Linked DNA regions of Homo sapiens. The protein of the gene in region 1 interacts with the protein of each later gene in a pairwise test. Each region holds a gene or a part of one and is shown in the gene's direction. Other genes may lie near its edges.

The links. The genes of interacting proteins can lie anywhere in the genome.
Region 2: the proteins of NME7 (region 1) and NFKBIL1 interact in binary tests that used the Homo sapiens proteins (3 or more experiments, as listed by UniProt).
Region 3: the proteins of NME7 (region 1) and NT5C2 interact in binary tests that used the Homo sapiens proteins (3 or more experiments, as listed by UniProt).
Region 4: the proteins of NME7 (region 1) and FKBP6 interact in binary tests that used the Homo sapiens proteins (3 or more experiments, as listed by UniProt).

Annotation. Positions count from the first base shown.
Region 1 is NC_000001.11:169,326,298-169,329,797, reverse strand, and holds part of NME7 (nucleoside diphosphate kinase homolog 7), read left to right. Parts: intron 1-3,500. UniProt on the Homo sapiens protein: Possesses an intrinsic kinase activity. Displays 3'-5' exonuclease activity with a preference for single-stranded DNA. Does not seem to have nucleoside diphosphate kinase activity.
Region 2 is NC_000006.12:31,554,108-31,557,607, forward strand, and holds part of NFKBIL1 (NF-kappa-B inhibitor-like protein 1), read left to right. Parts: intron 1-3,500. UniProt on the Homo sapiens protein: Involved in the regulation of innate immune response. Acts as negative regulator of Toll-like receptor and interferon-regulatory factor (IRF) signaling pathways.
Region 3 is NC_000010.11:103,095,773-103,099,272, reverse strand, and holds part of NT5C2 (cytosolic purine 5'-nucleotidase), read left to right. Parts: intron 1-288; coding exon 289-342; intron 343-1,184; exon of another isoform or gene 1,185-1,225; intron 1,226-1,898; coding exon 1,899-1,982; intron 1,983-3,292; coding exon 3,293-3,334; intron 3,335-3,500. UniProt on the Homo sapiens protein: Broad specificity cytosolic 5'-nucleotidase that catalyzes the dephosphorylation of 6-hydroxypurine nucleoside 5'-monophosphates.
Region 4 is NC_000007.14:73,355,643-73,359,125, forward strand, and holds the end of FKBP6 (inactive peptidyl-prolyl cis-trans isomerase FKBP6), read left to right. Parts: intron 1-2,538; 3' UTR 2,539-2,983; downstream 2,984-3,483. UniProt on the Homo sapiens protein: Has an essential role in spermatogenesis. It is required to repress transposable elements and prevent their mobilization, which is essential for the germline integrity.

The DNA of each region.
Region 1 (3,500 bases):
AAGGTCTCTGTTATTAGCCCTTTGAATAAACTTTCTACCCCTATCTCTTTCTCTACTTCTTCTTTAAGACCAATAACTTAGATTTGCCCTTTCCAGCCTATTTCCTAGATCCTATAGGTGTGCTTCATGTTTTTTATTCTTTTTTTGTCTCCTCTGTGTATTTTCAAATAACCTGTCTTCAATCTCACTAATTCTTCTGCTTGATCAATTCTGCCATTAAAGGACTCTGATGCCTTCTTCAGTACGCTTTTTGCATTTTTCAGCTCCAGAATTTCTGCTTGATTCTTTTTAATTATTTCAATCTCATTGTTAAATTTATTTGATGGAATTCTGAATTTCTTCTCTGTGTTATCTTGAATTTCTTGGGTTTCCTTAGCAGAGGTTTTTTTTTTTTTTTTTTTCAGGAAACACAAATTTTCATGAAATTTGAAAATTCAAACCACAGCATGACATTAAGAAAACACAAATATTACTTATCCAGAAGAAAAAGTGTTTTGAACTTTTTCATAAAATATTTAGGAACAAGGAAGTTGAAGCTTGGAGCGGTAGAGTGAGAAATAAGGAATATGTGGGAGAGAAAGTAAAGTGAAAAAAATTAGATCAGATTTTTTTTTTGTTGTTGTTAGCACTAAACTGGTTTGCTTCAGGCCCCTAGCCAGGGTTGATTTTGAAACCTATAGCAGAGCTATTTTGAATACTCTGTCTGAAAGGTCACATATCTCTGTTTCTTCAGGATTGGTCCCTTGTGCCTTATTTGGTTTATTTGGTAAGTTCATATTTTCCTGGATGATCTTGATACTTGTGGATGTTCATCTGTGTCTGGGCACTGAAAAGTTAGGTATTTACTGTAGTCTGCAATCTTGGCATGTTTGTACCCATCCTTCTTAGGAAGGCTTTACATGTATTTGAAAAGTCTTGGGTATTATGATCTAAGCTATATCTGCTTTAAGGGGCACCCTAAGTCCATTATAAAACTAATGATGAATGTGCAACAGATAGTGTTATAAAATTTAAAAAGAAAATTGTTACTAAAATTTTTATTGACAAAAACAGATCTATAACTGTTTGAACTCCCCAAAAGGTAAGAATTGTACTTTGGCTCTGATTTATTAATATGATATATCCTTTACAAAAAAATTTACCTAGTATTATATGTTCAATAGTTTTTATTTTCATTTATAAATATAATTTTAGTCATTTTTTTGTCCATCATAAATCCCTTTTTCCTTCATACTGATTTTTTTCTGCAAAGACCTTTAAAAAACTATTTACCTAGGGTTAGTTGCAGCTGAGGCTGCATCATCACAAATCCAGAGTTGCTCTTCTTGTATGTCAGAAAAAGATCAGTGAGGGAGATGAGTGTGTACAATGCAGTTCTAAAGTCACAGGTGGACCTATAAGCCACCATCATCGCTTTGGGAGACATAGGCAACAGAAATCCTAAGTGCTTCATGTAAACTAAGTCATTTAATCCCCAAAACTACCTTATGAAGAAAGTACTGTTTCCATTTTTCAAATGGGGAAAATGAGAGTTAGAGACATTAAGTCTTGCCCAGGTCTTTTGGACTCTCACAAATATTCCTCCATAATCCCCCCCTCCAAAAAACCCCTTTATAGTTTCCTGGATCTTCTCTTTAAGCAACACATTTCAGGGCCATGTCTCTTGCTGTAGGCTGCCAGCAAATGATAGCAGCAGTAGCACCAGCAGCAGCAGACTTATCAGATTGGTGTGCTCGTTGCACTCAGCATGCTAGTAGTACCAGGCCCAGTTGGTATTTGTTGATTGATGATCATAGTATCATCAGGAATGGAATAGCTTTCTGATCAGTATTATTGAAATGAGGCCAAGGTACAATTTTGCTTGGTAACATACGCTTAAACTTACTCTTGAACTGAGAGTTTGGATTTTTTAAAGTATATCTGTATGGAAAAGATTGTTAATTTCATATGATCCACTGTAAAGCTGGACCTTCCTTTAAACAGTAGCAGAGAGAGGTGGTGGTGTGATTTATTTCTCCAAAGACTTGTTTAATCTTCAAATATAATTTCACTTGCAATTCCAATATTGGTCAATATTTCCATAAAATCACCTATTTTTTGTTATAAAACTTATATGAATTTTACATTCCACTCAATAACATATATTTATATACACATATATGCATGTTGCAGTGTAAAAATTGTTTACGTTACTTACCATCGAGTAAGACTGGTGCTCTAGGAAAGTTCTCTCTGTATAGACAGAGACCTTAAGACTTTAAGATACTAAGGCTTCTGGGTATAATAATACCACATTGTCCAGTTCAAGTCACTTCAAGACTTCTGGTATAATAATACACATTTTCCTTTAAGACTTTAAGATTTCTGGAACAAAGTGTGATTATGTGTGAGGGATCAACTCTTTTATTATGTATAACTTATATTTAAAATGTTCAAAAGAGGAAAAATGATTTGGCTTCTTTAAGAAAGTCTCTTTTTGATGCAGTGTAATCTTTAAATGTTCCTCATAAAGTACTTTTGATAGAAGTTGGAATCTTCAGGGAAGAAGGAGCTAATGATTGTCTGTGTAATCATTAGGTTGTGGCATTCTCATCAGAGCATCTGTGACAGACAACTCAAGGTGTATCTATGTGCTACTAAAGTGTTAGTTTCTCTCTCTTGAGTTGGCCCTGGAAGGCTAGTGATATGGAAATATCTGAGTCATAGGAAATGTAGTTTCCAGTTTTGGCTCAGTTATTAACCAGCTCTGTGACCTTATGCTAGTCATTTATATTATCTGGAGTTCAGTTTCTTTATCCATAAAGTGAAGAGTTAAAACAAAATGATATATAGCTTTAATAGCATTTGAGGAAGGAAACCAAGTTCCTCCTTTTTTCTAGATTTGGCTCAACAAAGCTGAAAAGTAAATTTTCTTTAAATTTTAAGGGTGGCTTTGGTCTGGATGGTGTGTGTATGTGCATGTGTGTCAGGCAGGTAGTTGAAAGGCCAACCTCACTGTGATGTTTTATCCCAAGTCCAGATGTACCACTGTTATATCTCCAGGTACATCTTTTAACTCTAGGAAGTAAACACAGTTTTTACTGTAAAGGTAAACCAGAAAGTTAAGTTTAAATCAAGTTTGAATATAATTTGTACTTGGAGTAATAAACCTTTTCCCACAGAGGAAACAGCACTAGCTTGGGAGTTCGTTTCCAAAAGCTCTACTGAACAAGCACAGGTTTCAGCTCACTTTTGTACCTGTTTCTCTGTCCCTTGGTGGGCTCCCTCTACCAGCTTCTTAGGCTTCTCAGTCACTTGTCTGCTTGACTTGAGACTCAGCACATGTCTTACGAGTAAAGACAACGCAATGAATGTTGGTTTCACTTCAATGGGCTTCCTGTCTTTCTGGATCTTGGATCCTCAGATCCTGGCTGCCTTAAAAGCTCTCCAAATCTTTGATATCCTACTTTTCTAGTTGTTCTTAGAAGTAGCATTGGTTTGCTGTGAGCTACTTTGTCATA
Region 2 (3,500 bases), on another chromosome or scaffold:
ACTACATGAAAATTTTAGGCCGGGTGCGATAGCTCACACCTGTAATCCCACACTTTGGGATGCCAAGGTAGGCAGATCACTTGAGCCAGGAGTTCAAGACCAGCCTGAACAACACAGTGAGACCTGGTCTGTACAAAAAATACAAAATTAGCCAGGCGTGGTGGTACGTGGCTGTCGTCCTGTAGTCCCAGTTACTCAGGAGGCTGAGGTGGGAGGATCGCTTGAGCCCAGGTGGGGCAGAGTTTGCAGTGAGCAAGATCATGCCACCGCACTGCAGCCTGGGCAACAGGGTGAGACCTTGTCTCAAAAAGAAAAAAAAAGCTTTTTTAAAGATAGATAGAAGAAAATGTTTGCAATATGTATAACACATACAGTATATAGAACCCTCATATCAATATATATAATTTCCAAAGAAAAAGTGGATAAAGAATATGAGCAATTCATTCACAAAAAATACAAATAGCCAAAAGACATGAAAAAGAAAAAAACATTGTTAATAAAATAATTTTTTAATCTATCCAACTGGCAAAATTAAAAGGGTTGATGATATTCAATTTTGGTAAAGGAAGACATAGGCACACTTGTATATTGGCACAAACTTATTGAGAGCAGTTTGACCAAATTGCGCATGTCCTTTGACTCAGAAATTCCACTTATGAAAATCTACCCCCACAGAAAGACTGTAAGATACTCATGAGGCTGAACATTTTTTGAAACAAAGTCTATCGATATTGGGGTAAGGAGATTTGTTTTGTACACACAGTGGAACACTAATTATAAAGTCGTCAAAAAGTATGAGGTAGACTGTATATATTCCTGTGGAAAAATATAAATGAGATGTTAAATGAAAGAAGCAAGTTGCCAAGCAATATTTGTAGTATGGTTACATATCTCCAAATAAATGTGTCATATGTATGCTTTTAGGTACACCAAGGTGGGACTGGAAGGGATCACAGTACACTGTTAATAGTTATCAAATTTGTTCGTCCTTCTTTAAAAAGAAAATTTCAACTTAATTATATCCCTTTCACATTAAAATGTCAAATAAAATTGGGGGAAAAGCCACCTACAGCCCCACCACCCATAGGCTAGAATTTTTACATATTTTTTGCCAGTCTATTTTTTTTCTTTTTTTTTTTTTTTTTTTGAGATGGGAGTCTCCCTCTGTTGCCCAGGCTGGAGTGCACTGGCATGATCTCAGCTCACTGCAACCTCTGCCTTCCAGGTTCAAGTGATTCTCCTGACTCAGCCTCCCAAGTAGCTGGGATTACAGGCACATGCTACCACGCCTGGCTAATTTTTGTATTTTTAGTAGAGACAGGATTTCACCATGTTGGCCAGGCTGGTCTCGAACTCCTGACCTCAGGTGATCCACCCGCCTCAGCCTCCCAAAGTGCTGGGATTACAGGCCATGAGCCACCACGCCCGGCCTCTTTTTTTCCAACCATAGGATTTGGTCTCTTGTTTTAGACAGTTATTATCTGATCCTCTCTCTCTCTCTCTTTTTTTTTTTTTTTTTTTTTTTTGAGATAGAGTCTCACCCTGTCACCCAGGCTGGAATGCAGAGGCGCGATCTCGGCTCACTGCAACCTCCGCCTCCCAGGTTCAAGCAGTTCTCTGCCTCAACCTCCCAAGTAGCTGGGATTACAGGCGTCAGCCACCACGCCTGGCTAATTTTATATATAATATAAAATATAATTATATATATATTTTGTTTGTTTGTTTTAGTAAAGACGGGTTTTCACCATCTTGGCCAGGCTGGTATTGAACTCCTGACCTTGTGATCCATTGTCCCCCCCCCCCAGCCTCCCAAAGTGCTGGGATTACAGGCGTGAGCCACCGTGCCTGGCCACATCTGATCCTCTCTACAGTTTTGTAGCCAGCTTTTTTCAAACACATGCCTCAGTTGTAGTGGCTGTTTAATATTATGTTTTTATAGTTGGAGGCCCTACTCCTTAAAACCTATGAATGTAAACCTCCCATGCAAGCCTGAGCACTCACCATGCTCACCACCTGAGCTCAGGTGGGGAACAAGCGAATGAGAGACAGGACCAGGTACTTTCTGGGTGGGACAAGTTGAGAGGGTCTGTGACAGGTCACAGCAGCACTAGGGAGAAGTGCCCCCCCCCACCAACCCTGATGTGATTTGGGTAGGGATGGTGGGCCTTCGCCAGCCACACCTGGGCCATTCTGTCTTCTTGCCTTCCTGGCCTTGCCTTCCCCTATTCCAGCTTTCTGCCAGGTAAACAGTACTTTCCAGCACTACCAAATAAAGATTTAAGGACTGCTAGCCCATTTCCTCTTACCCCGGGGAAAGAAAGTAGGTCCACAGGAAGGAAGGCTGCCTCCCTCCCCTTCTTCTATCCCCCAAGTGAAAGAGGTGGTTGGTGGCCACAGCAGGTGGGCCTGGCCAGGATGCCTGGGTTGGCAGTGAAGGAAGTAGCATGGCACTCAGCTAACCTTGGGCCAGATGCAGCAAGGTTGGGACTGAAGAAAAGGGGAGTTCAGGAACGTCGGTTCCTCTCCTGTTTTCTCTCAGCCCATGGGTGAGACCCTCTGTCACACTCCACTCCCTTTCCCCTGCCCTAGGTCAGCAGTCATTTGGAAAGAGCTTGCTCTGCCGCCGGCCATAGTTGTTGCCGGTTCACCTCCCCACCCCTCTCCCATCATCCCCTGGTAAGGCTGGCTGAGAGAAATTCCCCTGAAAACATTTATTTTACTCAGTTTATTGATAAGTGATAATAAAAGATAAGTATTACATATTTGTGTATTTATTAATGGCCCAGAGTAGAGCATTCAGATATTTTCCCAGTCTGATATATGGTTTCAGGTGAGAAAATAAGGGATTTATATAGTGACAATATTTTTAAGTGAAAAGTGGAATACATAGTCAAAGAATTTGGGCACTGCCTTGGTGGCTGGAGGCAGGTCAGAAAATGTCAGTTGGCATGGTAGAACTTCTAGGACGCTGAAATAGTTTGTGGAGACACAAGTAAGAATTTTTTTTTTTTTTTTTTTGAGACGGAGTCTTGCTCTGTCACCTAGGCTGGAGTGCAGTGGCACGATCTCGGCTTACTACAAGCTCCACCTCCCGGGTTCACATCATTCTCCTGCCTCAGCCTGCCGAGTAGCTGGGACTGCAGGCGCCCGCCACCAGGCCTGGCTAATTTTTTGTATTTTTTAGTAGAGATGGGATTTCACCATGTTAGCCAGGATGGTCTTGATCTCCTGACCTCGTGATCCGCCCGCCTCGGACTCCCAAAGTGCTGGGATTACAGGCGTGAGCCACCGCGCCTGGCCGAGAATATTTTAAACTACCACACTTACCATGCATGTGGTAAACTATCAGTCTGTATTTATCAGTGATGGTTATTTCCTAATACCCAGGAGGCATCCATGTGAGCCACCCTTCCATTGCTTTAAGACCAAGGGAGCGAGTGACCAGCAGGATTCAAGATGGCAGCTCTGCCGAGGAGTGGGAGTCCCAGCTAACTTCTGCT
Region 3 (3,500 bases), on another chromosome or scaffold:
CAAAACCCTGTCTGTACAAGAAATACAGAAAATTAGCCAGGCATGTTGGTGTGGACCTGTGGTCCTAGCTACTTGGGAGGCTGAAGTGGGAGGATCACCTGAGCCTGGGGAGGTCGAGGCTGCAGTGAGCTGAGATTGTACCACTGCACTCTAGCATGGGCAACAGGGTGACCTTGTCTCAAAAAAAGAAAGGATTTGGGTTGATTAGTAAAAACCATTTTTCTTATAAACTACATGTTAAAAACTGATTTTGTTCTTTTCTTAATTCTTTTTTTTGTCTTCCTCCAGGGCTCCCTTAAGGAAAAGACAGTTGAAAATCTTGAGAAGTATGTAGTCAAAGATGTAAGTAATATAGGGGAAAATAGATCTGCATAATAGCTCATTTTACCTATTAGGGAAATTAATAACAAGCTGATTTATAATGAAATGGACAAAAGAAGAGATTTGTCTTGGCATAGTATGTGTCGGGTATAATCACCAAGAATATTCAGCTAGAGCATAGGTCTTAGTAGAGTTTTTCCTGTTTCTTGATAGGCAAGAAGACTCAGTATTTCATTTTTCCTGTTTCTTGATAGGCAAGAAGACTCAGTATTGCATTTGTTCGCTTAGCTTCAATTATAATAGCAGTTAGAGGTTTACTGTATGCACATCATCACCATGCTAAGTGATTACATGCATTATGCCATTTAATCTTCTGTATGACCTTGAGTTAGGTATTATTGTTGCCTCTGTTTTATAGATAAAAAACCTGAGAAATAGAGGGATTAAATAACTTGCCAGAGGTCACACAGTTAGTAAGTAGTAAAGCTAAGTCACACCCAAATCATAACTACTGCACTAGATCATCTCAAAAATGTGCATATATGTTACTGTTATTTAAAATGCCTTTAACCTGTCAACAGAGAGTAATGAGGAAAGCTTTAAAGTACCTTAAAAGGCATTAGTGGCAAACCTGATAAAATTTTTTAAAAAATCTGTGGTTAATAGTATTGTACCAATGTTAATTTCATACTTTTCATAATTATACTGTGGTTATATAAGATGTTAATATTAAGGGAAACTGGAGGAAGAATATATGGGAACTCTTTATTTTCACAGCTTTTCTATAAGTCTAGAACTGTTTTAGAATAAAAATTAAACACACATAGTGCCCCAAGATGACATACTTCTTTCTTTTCCTACAGAGTAAAAGTAGCAGAATACAGTATTTTCTCAAAGTACTGTGGTAAAGATTTCTTGTTTTCAGTTTTTGTGCTTCCTATTTTCACCCACCTCCCTTATTTCAAGAAAGAACACTGAATGGGGAGGGTCCGGGAGAATTTGAGTGAAGGAATCTATTTGCTATGCGAGAAGGAAAAGATATTTTTCTTTCCAGGCACATGAGGGGTTAGAATTTCCTCATTTAAGCGCACGTGGGTGTGGGTATTTCTAGGTAGCATCTGCACATGTCATTTCATTCTGCAAGGTGTTTTATAAAACCATAGTGTACACACTGAAAGCCATATCTAATAATCTCTATGTAGAGCATGTTTAAATCAGCTTCTGCTGACCTTTAACACACCTCACATACTTCAAGAAATCTCAAGGTAATTTAAACTCTTTCCTGAGGCAGACATCATGAGGAAGGTAGAGATATGTTGTTAACAGCCATATAACCCCTATAAATATGTGTATAATTTTACATGTAAATCTATTACATACACTGTGTATACTACATATGTTAATACTTTATTCATTTATAGTGATAATGTGGGCTTTTAAGTGCAAAATTCTGAAATCAGCTAACCCTTAAAAGGTTCCCCCATTCCTGTTGTGGACAGAAATCCAGTATTTGACAACTCCAAAGTGTAAAGATAAAAATGTTTTCGTGTTTCACTCATTATCCAATTACATTTCAGGGAAAACTGCCTTTGCTTCTGAGCCGGATGAAGGAAGTAGGGAAAGTATTTCTTGCTACCAACAGTGACTATAAATATACAGATGTAAGTGCTTCATGTGTATATTTATTTATGCAGTGGAATTATTTTGGCCTAAAGAACTGTGAAGACAATGAGGAAGATAGAAGTTTATTAAGTGAAAATAGTTTCTTGCCTTCTCATTTTCAAAGAGTAAAAAGGCAAAAATATACAGGATAACAGTGGTTCTCAAATTTTTCTAGAAATTTATTTTAACCATTTTCACTGATTATAATTGGCTACTTGAAAATTTTAATCTTGGGGTTATTTAAAACATTTGTAAAGATTAAAATGGCTTTTGTGTCTCTTTGGAGCATCATTTCTATAAACTTGAGCAGTCACACCCCTTATTGATGTGTATGTATGACTTTCCCTGCTGTTGGAAGACCTGCAGCAATAGATGCTGCACAGATGTTTTGGCTCTTAGCTGTCAAAATTTATATATCTTTTTTTTTTTTTTTTTTTTTTTTTTGAGACAGAGTCTCACTCTGTCGCCCAGGCTGGGGTGCAGTGGTGCGATCTCGGCTCACTGCAACCTCTGCCGCCTGGGTTCAAGCAATTCTCCTGCCTCAGCCTCCCAAGTAGCTGGGATTACAGGCACCTGCCACTGCGCCTGGCTAATTTTTTTGTATTTTTAGTAGAGACGAGGTTTTAACATCTTGGACAGGCTGGTCTTGAACTCCTGACCTCGTGATCCACCCACCTTGGCCTCCCAAAGTGCTGGGATTACAGGCGTGAGTCACTGTGCCCAGCCCAAAATTTACTACCTCTTAAAAACAGTTTTTTCCCATGATTAAAGCATGTGGAAAAACTGATCTAACTCCTTAACTTCATCTTACTTTTGCTGAGACACTTAAAAATTTATAGTACTGGCAAGAAGTTCCACTTCCCCCAATTCGCTGTACATGTAAACTTGATTTAGACACCTGGTGATTTGTAGTAAACAGTCTTACATAAACCGTTGGTTTGTTGACTTAGTTGGTCTAGGGATGGCAGTAGCGAAGCCAAGGTGATAGGTTATTTCTGTGTGAGTCATTAGTTTTCTCTATACCCCTACCTCATATGCTCCTTTCCTCCAAATGTGTGTTCAAAAACATCTTCCAGAGGAAGTATGTATCCTCCCTGAGAATGTCAGAAGCCTTTTTTTCTTTTTGGTATATGGTAAAGCATTAATTTCTGGCTTCCACTGCCATGATTTCATAAAATTTAGAGGAAACAAGAATGTGGTGAGTCCTATGTTGAAAAAGACATGTTTTGTGAAAAGCTTGTAATTTCTTTAGGTTATATACCTTTTGCAAAAGTAGTATATGGACCTTATGTTAAATTTTTTTTTCCAGAAAATTATGACTTACCTGTTTGACTTCCCACATGGCCCCAAGGTACCGTATGTGACTCAATAGACCACTGCTTTAATAACAATGAATGCATTTAATCATTCTGGAATATTAAGGGGGAAAGAATTGGTCAGAACCCACCCAGAAAAGTCCTACTTTTTAAGCCTATTGTCTAATCTTCATTAACATTAGAAGTAATCCAGGAGCTAGT
Region 4 (3,483 bases), on another chromosome or scaffold:
GTAAAAAAAAAAAAATGATAACATGATCACTACCCATGTATCATTACCCAGGCTTGACAGTGAACATCTTTCTGCTGTTCCTGTACCCACTCTCCAATTTTTTGGTAGTACTTAATTTTGAATTATAAAAATGCCACATGCCAGCCGGGTGCGATGGCTCACACCTGTAATCCCAGTACTTTGGGAGGCCGAAGCAGGCAGATCACGAGGTCAGGAGATCGAGACCATCCTGGCTAACACAGTGAAACTCCGTCTCTACTAAAAATACAAAAAATTAGCTGAGTGTGGTAGCGGGCGCCTGTGGTCCCAGCTTCTCGGGAGGCTGAGGCAAGGAAGTGGCTTGAACCCGGGAGGCGGAGCTTGCAGACAGCAGAGATCGTGCCACTGCACTCCAGCCTGGGCGACAGAGCAAGACTCTGTCTCAAAAAAAAAAAAAAAAAAAAAAAAAAAGTGAGTGTATATGTAACTTGTCCACAAAAAGAATTATACATTTTGTACTAGAATATATTTTTATTGCATTTTGAGTGTTTTCTAAGTTAACACAAAGAGAACTACGTCGTTTTTAAGAAGTGGCTGGATAGCATTCCATCCTGTCAGGATATGGAAATGGTTTTCACAGTGATTAGTAGGCAGGTAGGTAGGTAGAGATTAGATAGACACACAGAAACATGGTCATGGAGCTATCCTCACGCCTGACTTTCCTGTGACAGTCAAAGTCCTATCACTGGTTGTGATGGGTGTGTCTTTGCCTGAACTAGGTCATGCTAAACTGACCTCTCCAGTGGCTGTACCAGTTTGTTCTTGGTAGTGTCTGAGAGATTCCATTCCGTCGCTTTGCCATCATTTGGATTGCTAGACTTTTTAATATTTGCCAGGTTGGTGTATCTCAAATAGGATCTCATTACTAGCATTAGCAGTTCCCTGACCAGGTCTCTGTTCACATGTTTCCAGACTGAGGTGGCCTTTCTGTAAATTGCCTAATTGTTTCTCTATAACCAAACACCTTTCTGATGTTTTTAAGTTATTTTTGATAACTCTGTCATTAATTCTGTGAGTTCTATCAGCAGTTTCACTGCATGCATCAGGTATGTGATACCATATGCCGGTAATGGTCATTTTGTCTTCTCCTCTTGTATCTTTTTTGTTTCCCCTCACAAGACAGAGTTTCACTCTTGTCACCCAGGCTGGAGTACAGTGGCGTGATCTCGGCTCACTGCAACCTCTGCCTCCTGGGTTCAAGCGATTCTCCTGCCTCAGCCTCCCGAGTAGCTGGGATTACAGGTGCCTGCCACCACGCCCAGCTAATTTTTGTATTTTTAGTAGAAACGAGGTTTCACCATGTTGGCCAGGCTGATTTTGAACTCCTGACCTCAGGTGATCCCCCCCAGCTTGGCCTCCCAAAGTGCTGGGATTACAGGCATGAGCCACTGTGCCTGGCCCTCCTCTCATGTCTTATTCAGAGCCTGATGGTGCGGTGCATGCTTCTAGAACAGTAGCGATGGGTGTGCCTCATGACCGTAATGGAGCTGCTGCTCGCTCCACCGTTAAACACCATGCTGACTTTGGCTGAGCTGTATTTTTTTCTTATCATGTTATGGAAATGTTTGTTTGTTTTTGTTTGGTTTGGTTTTTTTTTTTTTTTTTTTTTTTGAGACGGAGTCTCACTCTGTCACTCAGGCGATCTTGGCTCACTGCAACCTCTGCCTCCCGGGTATAAGCAATTCTCCTTGCCTTAGTCTCCCAAGTAGCTGGGATTACAGGCACCAGCCACCACGCCTGGCTAATTTTTGTATTTTTAGTAGAGATGGGGTTTAATCATGTTGGCTAGGCTGGTCTCGAACTACTGATGTCAAGTGATCCGCCCGCCTCAGCCTCCCAAACTGCTTTGATTACAGGTGTGAGCCAATGCGCCTGGCACCACCTCAGTCTTTACTTACTTCTGTCCCGTTGCCTGTGGTTCTGGAAGTCTGACTGGAAAGGGGTCTGTTCCTGACACCCCACCTCCTCTTCCCTCTCTCAGGTGCTGGCTCCTTTGGTTGTATTGGGGTAGGGAGGAAAGAGAAGGGAAAGGGTAGCTCACGCCTGTAATCCCAGCACTTTGAGAGGCCGAGGCAGGCAGATCACTTGAGGTCAGGAATTCGAGACCAGCCTGGCCAACATGACGAAATCCTGTCTCTACTAAAAATGCAAAAAAAAGTATCCAGGCGTGGTGGTGCGTGCCTGTAATCCCAGCTACTCAGGAGGCTGAAGCAGGAGAATCACTTGAACCCGGGAGGCAGAGGTTGCAGTGAGCAGAGCCTGTGCTACTGCACTCCAGCTGGGTGACAGAGTAAGGCTCTGTCTCAAAAAAAAAAAAAAAAGTTTCCCAGAGCCCATCTAGTAGGGCCACACGGTGATGGCATCTGTCTCTTGGCTCCTGTGTGGTCACCGGCCATGCCCTTCCCTGACCTCAGCTGCTAGCCCTCAGCACATGTGACTGTGACGTCGTGTGGCAGCTGCTGAGTCCTGAGATGTTTTTAATGGCTGTTTGATTCCCAGGTTCTTCACCTACCAACGAGGGGAGAGAGCTGTGGTTCTCCATCATTGGGGGAGTGGAAGGGAGCTCCCAGCGCAGCCGTGGCAGCCACCTTCCAGGAGCAGGGGCTGGAATGTCCTGTGGCCGCATCTCTCATGGACGCGGCTGAAACGTGTTTTCACAGGTGCTGTTTTCTGTTTTCCGTGTTCGTAACAGAAGGGAGGGGAAAGCGCAGCTACTGACAAGTAGAACACTGCTACTTTTTTTAAGGCAGTTTCTTGTTTTTTTAGACGGAATTAGTCCTTGGCTTCCCTCCCAGTCCCAGCCCTGCTTCCGGCTGCGAATGTCCCTGAGTCAACACCAATAGAGATTGCTTTGTGTATTTTGTAGGGTTCTCTGTTTTGAAGACAGAATTATGTTACAAATGTTTTTGTTGTAAATAAATAAAACACTTCCTTGTCCTTGCAAGATCCAGTATAAGTGAATTGCGTGGACTCAGCTAAGCTTCCAGAGTCCCCAGGTGGGCAGGGGGAGGCCATTTGCCAGTGGGGCTGGGGCTCAAGCTCTGGAGCCAGCGGTTCTGATTCACCTGATAACGAAACGCTGCACACCAGGCTTGGGGTTCCCTAAGCCCGCTCCCAGTGTGGGGAGCTGATGCCAGCAGCTTAATGGAAAGTTGAAGCTACTTCACCCTCCCATACCCCGACACCCCGGGATCCTTGTCCCACACAGCCCTGAGGCCACCTCACCCTCCTGCGCCCCGACACCCCGGGCTCCCTGCCCCACACGACCCTGAGGCCACCTCACCCTCCTGTACCCCGACACCCCGGGCCCCCTGCCCCACACAGCCCTGAGACCACCTCACCCTCCTGCACCCCGACACCCCGGGCTCCCTGCCCCACACAGGCCTGAGGCCATCTCACCCTCCTGCACCCCAACACCCCGGGCTCCCTGCCCCACACAGGCCT